Regions from separate parts of the Homo sapiens genome. Here region 1 is linked to region 2. The links come from fine-mapping of genetic effects on gene expression. Tissue or cell type: regulatory T cells. Region 2 holds a variant in brackets; the other region holds the start of a gene. All regions are shown on one strand. Distances are from middle to middle.

Region 1 (4,317 bases), 33 kb before region 2:
CAGGTTGGAGGAAAAGCCTGCCTGTGAGCAGGGTCCCGGCAGGGCCCACCCACCCAACAGTGGAGATCGGGCCTCAGAGCTGGGCAGTCATGGGAGTTCAGGGCCTGGCTCGCCTCGGCAGCCTGGTCTTAAAGAGGGACTTGCCCGAGGCCTCGATGTAAGTGACAGTCATCTCTTTGGAGCTGATCTCCACATAGGCAAAGCCACCCAGTGAGTCTTCAGTCCCATAGTGGAAGCGCAGATAGCCGTTGGGGACCTTGCGCTGGTGCCGCTTTGAGGGGTCCATGAAATTCCCAGCCCCACTCAGCACGTAGCCCACGCCATTCTCATCTTGCAGGTACTGAGGATGGAGGACAAGGGGTCAGTGGAGACCCAGCTTTGAGCAGAGCCCTGCCTAAGGTCCAGGGCTCGATCTGGCCCTAACCACAGAGTCACCTTGAGGTATGTAACCCCTCCTGGCTTCAATTTCCTGACTTTTAGGAGTGTATTAATCCTATTTCATAGGTAGAGCACTTAGTAAGAAATTGGTGGCCAGGTGTGGTGGCTCATGCCTGTAATCCCAGCACTTTGGGAGGCTGAGGGGGTGGATTGCTTGAGCCCAGGAATTTGAGACCAGCCTGGGCAACATAGTGAGACCTTGCCTCTACAAAAAAAATGCGCAAGGGCCAGGTGCAGTGGCTCATGCCTATAATCCCAGCACTTTGGGAGGCCGAGGCGGGCAGATCACTTGAGGTCAGAAGTTCGAGATCAGCCTGGCCAACATGGTGAAACCCCGTCTCTACTAAAATATAAAAATTAGCAAGGTTTGGTGGCCCATGCTTGTAATCCCAGCTACTTGGGAGGCTGAGACAGGAGAATTGCTTGAACCCAGGAGGCGGAGGTTGCAGTGAGTTGAGATCGTGCCACTGCACTCCCTCTCAAAAAAAAAAAAAAAAGCAAAAATTAGCTGCATGTGGTGGCCCATGCCTGTAGTGTCAGCTACTCTGGAGGCTGAAGTGGGAGGTTCACCTGAGCCCGGGAGATTGAAGCTGCAGTAAGCCCCGATTGCACCACTGCACTCCAGCCTGGGTGAAAAACAATGAAACCTTGTCTCCAAAAAAAAAAAAAAAAAAGAGCTTAAAAAAGAAAGAAAGAAAGAAATTGGCAATTCGAAGATATTATTCTGGCTTTGGAGTGTTTTCCTGGTTAGACAGCAAGATTTGAGGGACAGTCTAGACATTCTGAAGGCCACAGGAGACCCTCAAACAGCAGGAGGACCCCAGCCATGTGGACATCAGCTGGGATGGGGACCCCCCTCACCCAGCTCCCACCCCACCCACAGGGCCCTCACCTGCAGATTGTGATCGTGGCCGCACAGGTAGGCAGTGACCCCGTATGTGGCCAGCAGTGGCCGTAGCTGCTTGACCAGGCAGTGGGTAGGCCCGTGCTCGGCTATGGACCACACGGGGTAGTGGCCAGCCACCAGCACGTAGTCCTCCCTGGCCGCCGCCAGCTGTTTCTTGAGCCAGGACAGCTGTGTGCGGGCCAGCTTCACGTCTCGGGGCCTCTCAGGCTGCTGGCTGAGGAAGTCATCTGAGTTGCCACATAGTGTCACTGTGTCCAGCATAAAAATGGCCACAGACACATTGGTCTGTGGGATCTTGAAGTGCAGGCGGTAGAAAGGGCTGGGGAAGTTCCTGTGGAGGGGATAGAGGTCGTGGGTGCACATCTTGGGCGCAGAAGTCCCAGGGTCAGCTCAAGCCACAGGGCCCCTGTGTCCCTGCTATGTGAGGATCTCGGAAGGCAGGGCTGAGGGTGGCTCACCAGCGCTTGGAGATCTTAGAGTATGCAATCTGGGCAGAGACATTGCCAAGGTGGTCATGGTTTCCGGCTAGCACGTACCAGGGCACTTTGCGAAGGGAGCGGTCAGAGAATACGTCCTCAAAGGTCTCCTGTAGCAAACAGATAGGGCAGGCCTCTTCCCTGGGGTCAGTGGCTATGCCGATCCTCCCACCAAGTCAGGATAAGGGAGACACTGAATGCTCCCGGCGCCCAAAGGTGCCCCATCACCTTCCCTCTGCCCTCACCAAAGGAAGGTCACTAGGTAAGGCGGCTTCTCCCCACTGCCCGCCCCCACCTCCTGCCCCACTCTGTTGGGCACAGACCTGGAACCTCTTGTCATTGATGTCTTGCACACCAGTGAAGTAAAAATTGTCCCCTAGAGACAGGATGAAGTCTGCACCCAGGATCTGCACAGTCCGAGCGATCTCCTTGGCATTGGCCATTTCCCGGGCCGTGTGGAATGGGGCATTGGGGACCCCTCCCCAGTCACCCACGGCTACAAAGCGCAGGGCAGGGGTGGCACCATCAGCCAGGGAGGGTAGCAACAAGGCTTGCAGGATGAGCAGCGCCGTCCACATGTCCATCTGGGAGAAGAGAGACAAGCATAGGTGGCCCGGGCTGTGACAAGGGCAGGGAGGCCTTGAGACCCCCGCCTGCCCTGAGATAGAGGGAGACTGCTTGCTGCAGGCTGCCCCTGCGGGAACCCCTTGGTGCCCTAATTCTCAGGACACACAAGCTGCACAAGGCTGCACAAGCTGGCTTAGGGAAGGGGGGCGCGGTCTGTGAGAGGGCGAGCTGTACCAAGATGGCCCTGCAGGCCCATTTCACCCTCCTTCCACCTAGCCTGCCCAGCACTCACCCAGGGGGAGACACAGGCCAGTCACCGGAGGCTCTGAGAGGCTGGTGGGCTCTAGAGTAGAACTGCCGGTCCCTGAGCCTTTATTCCCTGAGGAGGAAGTGGATCATTAGTGAGGATGATGCAGTTTCTCCGAGGGCTGTCCCGGGAGCCCTCCCCTTGGGTCATGTGAGCCCTGGACTTCCCTGGAGCAGGACACGGGATTGGGGTGGGGGTGGGAGGATCTGGGCACACGTGTGCAGCAGCCTCGGCCCACACAGCCTCCGGGTGGACCTGCAGGGGCCTGTTTGTGCTGTAGGCTTGACACGTCCAGGTATCTCTGTGTGTCTGTGTATCTCAGTGTGAGTGTGTGTGTGTGTGCACACTTGAGAGGCTGTGGCTGTGATTACCCAAGACACATCTCCTGCACCTTCTTTCTCTGAGTAAGGGCTTACCTGTGTGTGTCTGGGTGTGTCTTGCTTCCTGCGTGCAGCTGAGCATGCCTACCTGGGCCTCGGCTCTGTACCTGATGGTGTTGCTGCAGACATGTATGCTGAGCCTGCGAGGCCTGTGTGGCTTGTCTGCGATGCACGCCTGTGTTCTCACGTGGCACTGGGTGGGAATCCCTATGGATGGAGTTTTGTGTGTGTCCATGTGTGTGTGCCTGGGTTGCATCTCTAGGATGGGTTGCGTGTCTGGTGTGGGAGCTGTGTTTGACAACATCTGGGTGGGGGACTCCGCGTGTGTCCCCGTCCTCCCCCTGCCCTCTCTCCATCCCACACATAAACACCAACGGGCTTCCCTTTTCCAGGAAGTCCTGCCCACACCCTCCCCTCCCCCCAGACTCCCATTCCTGCAGGAGGAACCAGGCAGGAGGCAGCTAGCTGGTGATAGCGCGCGTGACCACAGACCTCTGACCCTCATAGTCTCAGCAGCTGTCTGCAGGCCCTCCACGGGACCGCAGCCTGGGAGGGCAGGAGGCCCTGCACCTGCGGCCGGTCTGACCTGCTCCTCACCTCCCTGCCTGCCTCCTCCGTGCTGGGCGCCGCCGCGACACGTCCCGCGGACATTCAGGAGTCCCTTCAGTCCCTGCGAGCGCGGACCCGGGAGAGAGCTCTCATTCAACGCTGAGGCCACTGGCTCACAGATCTCCCCGGGTCACCCTGCGAAGTGCTTGGTCCCCCCCATTCCCAGCCCTGCAGCAGCAACAAACGGGAAGGAAGTGGGTGACGAGGACAGGCAGAGACCCCTCCCACGGGGCCGCCCGCATCTCACCTGCCGTCGCGGGGCGGGCGTTGCGGCCGGTGCCCAGCTGCAGATCCGCAGGCGATCGCACTCCTGGCGGCCCCAGCTTTAAGCAGGCAGCGGCCGATCCGCCCTGCTCGAGGGCTCAGGGCTGACCCAGGTGAGCCCCGGCGGGGAGGGCGGGCGCCTCGGCCTCCCCGCCCCGGAACCCTGCACCGCCCAGAGCCGCCACGCCTCCCGGCTGTAGGCTCCGCATCTGTAAAATGGGCCGATGAACCCCAAGGGTCGGCTCAGACCCACGGACTGCAGCTGCAGCTGGGCTAGAAGGGGTGGCCAGGGGAGCCGATTTCATCCTTTTCCTTCCTCCACGCCAACCAGGAGCCTCCATCTGCCTGGGACCCTTTGGGGGCACCCAT
Region 2 (4,391 bases):
CAAGTTCAAAGTTCCACAGATCTCTAGGGCAGGGGCAAAATGCCGCCAGTCTCTTTGCTAAAACATAACAAGAGTCACCTTTGCTTCAAGTTACCAACAAGTTTCTCGTCTCCATCTGAGACCACCTCAGCCTGGACTTTATTGTCCATATCACTACCAGCATTTTGGTCAGAGCTATCCAAGGAGTCTCTAGGAAGTTCCAGACTTTCCCACATCTTCCTGTCTTTTGAGCCCTCCAAGTCTCTAGGACGTTCCAAACTTTCCCACATTCTCCTGTCTTCTTCCGAGTCCTCCAAACTGTTCCAACCCTTGCCTGTTCCCCAGTTCCAAAGTTGCTTCCACATTTTCAGGTATCTTTACGGCAGAGCACCCCGCTACCCAGTACCAATTTACTATATTAGTCCATTCTTGCGCTGTGAATAAATACATACCTGAGACTGGATAATTTATAAAGGAAAGAGGTTTAATTGACATACAGTTTAGCATGGCTGGGAAGGCCTCAGGAAACTTAATCATGACGGAAGGAAAAAGCAAACATGTCCTTCACATGGTGGCAGCAAGGAGAAGTGCAGAGCGAAGAGTGGCAAAAGCCACTTATGAAACCATCAGATCTCGTGAGAACTCACTATCATGAGAACAGCATGGAGGGAAATGCCCCCATGATTAAATTACCTCTCACCGGGTCCCTCCCACAACATGTGGGGATTATGGGAACTACAATTTAAGATGAGATTTGGGTGGGGGCACAGCCAAACCGTATCAGGGTCAAAATAAGTTCCTAAGTTTCTGGTTTCCCTTGCCACAATCCCAGATGTCAACTTCCCCTCTCCAGTTGACATTATCTTCAATTATGTCTCCCCCATGCTAGGTTTGAAGCAGCTGTAATATTTTAGTTATTTATAATTTTCCATAGAATAATAAATAACAATTTTAAAGATTTATCTTTTTGTCAGTGTATATTTTACATGAGACAAAAGCTATTCAAGTGGTGAGTAGCCATTTGAAATTACATTGTGTAAAATCTGTGTCCCTAATGATTCGTGGTGTTGAGCATATTTGTATGTGCTTATTGGCCATTTGTATATATCCTGGAGAAATGTCCATTCAAGTTCTTTGCCCATTTATTATTTATTTATTTTTATTTTCACTTTTTTTTGGAAAGAGCTATGATGCCCAGGCTGGATTTGAACGCCTGGGCTCAAGATCCTTCTGCCTTAGGTTCCTGAAGCTGGGATTACAGGTGTGTTCCAGCATGCCCAGCCAATTTTGCCCATTTTCTAATCAATGTGTTTTTTGCTGGTTTATTACAATAACTTATTATTATTATTATTTTTTGAGACAGGGTCTTGCTGCATTACCCAGGCTGGAGTGCAGTGGTGCCATCTCGGCTCACTGCAATCTCCGCCTTCTGAGTTCAAGCCATCCTCCTGCCTCAGCCTCCTGTGTAGCTGAGACTAGAGGGCATGCCACCATGCTCAGCTAATATTTGTATTTTTTGTAGAGACAGGGTTTTGCCATGTTGTCCAGGCTGATCTTGAACTCTTGAGCTCAAGCTGTGTGCCCACCTCAGCCTCCCAAAATGCTGGGATTATAGGCGTGAGCCACCATGTCCAACAATTTATTATTATTAATTGTGGCTATAAAAACAATTAAAAATCTACCATCTTAAGCATTTTTGTGTACAGTTTAGTAGTGTTAACTATACTCACCTTGTTGTGCAACCAAACTCCAGCAATTGTTCCCATTCTCTCAAATTTATTTTTTCTTTCTTCAAGGTGGTTAATTTTATCTTCAAGTTAGCTGATTCTTATTTTGCTTGCTTGAATTTGCCATTGAACACCTATAGAGAAATTTTCATTTTAGTTGTGCTTTGCATCTTCCAGATCCGTACTTCCTGGGTAGTCTTTTAAAAAATTTTATATATATATATATATATATATATATATATATATATATATATATATGTATTTTTTCCCCCCCGAGACTGAGTCTTGCCCTGTCGCCCAGAGCTGGAGTGCAATGGCATGATCTCAGCTCACTGCAACCTCCGCCTCCTGATTTCAAGCAATTCTCCTGCCTCAGCCTCCCAGGTAGCTGGGATTACAGGCGCCTGCCACCATGCCCGGCTAATGTTTGTGTATTTTTAGTAGAGACGGGGTTTCACCATGTTGACCAGGCTGGCCTCTAACTCCTGACCTTGTGATCCGCCCACCTTGGCCTCCCAAAGTGCTGAGACTGC[A/C]GGCGTGAGCCACCGCGCCTGTAATTTTTTGTTGATATTATTGCATGCATCCTTTTCTTAGTTTTCTTTATTTCTTTCTCCATGGTTGTCTTTACTACTTTGAGCATAGTTAAGGCGGTTGCTTAAAGTCTTCGTCCAGTGAGCGCAATAACTGGAGATTCTCAAAGATGGTTTATCTCAATTTTTTCCCATTGATGAGCCATATTTTTCTGTCTTCTTTATGATTTTGTTTTTGTTGAAAAGTGGGATTTGAATTTTTTTTTTTTTTTTTTTTTTGAGACGGAGTCTTGCTTTGTTGCCCAGGCTGGAGTGCAGTGGCACAATCTCAGCTCACTGCAACCTCCGCCTCCCGGGTTCAAGCAATTCTTTTGAATTCAAGTCTTTTGAATTCTTCTGAGCCCAGAAAAGGTCTTTTCTGGAAATGCGTTCTTTCCTGGACATGAAGGGGGCATTCTCAATTCCCCAGCATACCTGGGTTTTTCTGAGTATCCTAATTTCTGAAAGAAATTTTTCTCCTCAGCTTTTCTTCCCAGGCTTTAGATGGTCTATCATATGTCTCAGCCATAATCTGTTGGCTCAGGTAGCTTCAGGGTTTTTGTTTACTTTATGACATTTCAAGCAGTTGCTGCCCTTTTTTTTCCTCAAAAAATAAAAATAAAACAGTCAGATGTGGTAGTGTGCACCTGCAGTCCCAGTTACTATGGAGGCTGAGGTGGGAGGATCATCTGAGCCTAGGGAGGTCGAGGTTGCAATAAGTCGTGATTACGCCACTGCACTCCAGCCTGGGTGACCGAGTAAGACCCTGTCTAAAAACAACAACAAAACCTTGTGTAACTGCTGCTAATTAGAGTATATATTCAGGGCAACTTGAATCTGTACTCCTGGTTTGCAGTCCTCAGCTCTGGCCCCAATAGACTGTCCATTTGTATTGATTTTGCCTAAGTTTCTTCCTTTTAGATCAACAAACTTATGGAGCGCCTTTCTGTTTCATAGATGGGATGCTTCTTGATTCGTGACTCGCTAATAATAGCCAATTAGATCACTGAACTCTTTGTTGAAATATTTTCTTTCTTTTTTGAGACTGAGTCTTGCTCTGTTGGCCAGGCTGGAGTGCAGTGGCGTGATTTCAGCTCACTGCAACCTCCACCTCCTGGGTTCAAGCGATTCTCCTGCCTCAGCCTCTGGAGTAGCTGGGACTTCAAGCATGTGCCACCACACCTGACTAATTTTTGTATTTTTAGTAGAGACGGGGTTTTACCATGTTGGCCAGGCTGGTCTTCAACTCCTGACCTCAAGTGATCTGTCCGCCATGGCCTCCCAAAGTGCTGGGATTACAGGTGTGAGCTACTGTGCCCGACCCCAAATTCTTGACCTTCTTGCCAACACTTGTTCTTTGGAGTGGTTGATTTTTATTGTGAGTCATAGGAGTTTTTTATATGTTCTTGATACTAACACCTTGCCAGATATATGATTTGCTGATACTTTTTACAATTCCCTGGTTGCCTTTTCCCAGTGTTGATAGTGTCTTCTGACACAGAATTATTTATTTAGAGACAAGGTCTTGCTCTGTTGCCTAGGCTGGAGTGCAGTGATGATGTGATCCGAGCTCACCCCAGTCTCAACCTCCTGGGCTCAAGGAATCCTCTTCCCCCAGCTGCCTGGCCTACACAAGTTTTTAATTTTGATGAAATAAAATTTGTCTTTTTTTTCTTTTGTGAACCATGTTCTGGTGTTTTATCCAAGAAATCAATGCCAGACCCAATAGAAACTTTTGCTGTGTGTTTTTGTTTAAAAAGGAAAATTAGAACAGAGTTAAAAGATCCAGTTGGCTTTTATTTGCAATTCATGAATTGGGGTACCATCCCATTCTATAAAATAGAATAAGAGCTCCCGCTGGGCGTGACAGAAGGGTGGGTTTTGTAAGGAACAAGAGAAACAGAACAACAACAAAGCAGACTGGTTAACATCAGGTTACTTTTATTGAAAGGGTAAAGCAGAGGGGACGTCCTTATTATGCCAGCTGAGATTGACTGGGCCCTTTCCTATTGGTTGCTGTGAGTCTCCTGTTTTGGGGAAAAACTGGGTATGTTTGAGGATCTACCTGCTTCTTTAAAAATTTTAGTTTGATTATGTGGCACTTAGCATGAGTGAC

Which allele goes with the higher level. Positions count from the first base shown, and alleles are read on the strand shown. Sizes are in standard deviations (SD) of each study's normalised expression.
As copies of C replace A in region 2, the expression in regulatory T cells of the gene that starts at base 2,733 in region 1 goes up (large effect, 1.4 SD a copy in Bossini-Castillo 2019).

What was found. PIP is the estimated chance that this variant, and not a neighbour inherited with it, causes the effect.
Region 1: it holds the start of ACP5, and the variant in region 2 is the best candidate, but not a certain one, in a credible set for the expression of ACP5 in regulatory T cells (Bossini-Castillo 2019, PIP 0.86).

What each region holds. Positions count from the first base shown.
Region 1 is chr19:11,574,913-11,579,229 of GRCh38, forward strand. ACP5 (acid phosphatase 5, tartrate resistant) reads right to left here and starts at 2,733. Exons shown (of 5, transcript NM_001611.5): 1 at 2,681-2,733; 2 at 2,145-2,405; 3 at 1,804-1,931; 4 at 1,331-1,676; 5 at 1-340. The coding sequence starts at 2,405. The coding sequence ends at 98. It overlaps LOC124904638 (a long non-coding RNA gene), which reads left to right and starts at 337. Exons shown (of 2, transcript XR_007067140.1): 1 at 337-441. RefSeq lists enhancers at 2,219-2,831, 2,832-3,443, 2,913-3,052 and a silencer at 4,003-4,192.
Region 2 is chr19:11,607,555-11,611,945 of GRCh38, forward strand. All of the region lies in intron 1 of ZNF627 (zinc finger protein 627), which reads left to right. Among named protein-coding and RNA genes, the nearest start is that of ZNF627, 12 kb to the left of the region's middle. The variant A/C (reference allele first, on the strand shown) is at 2,240.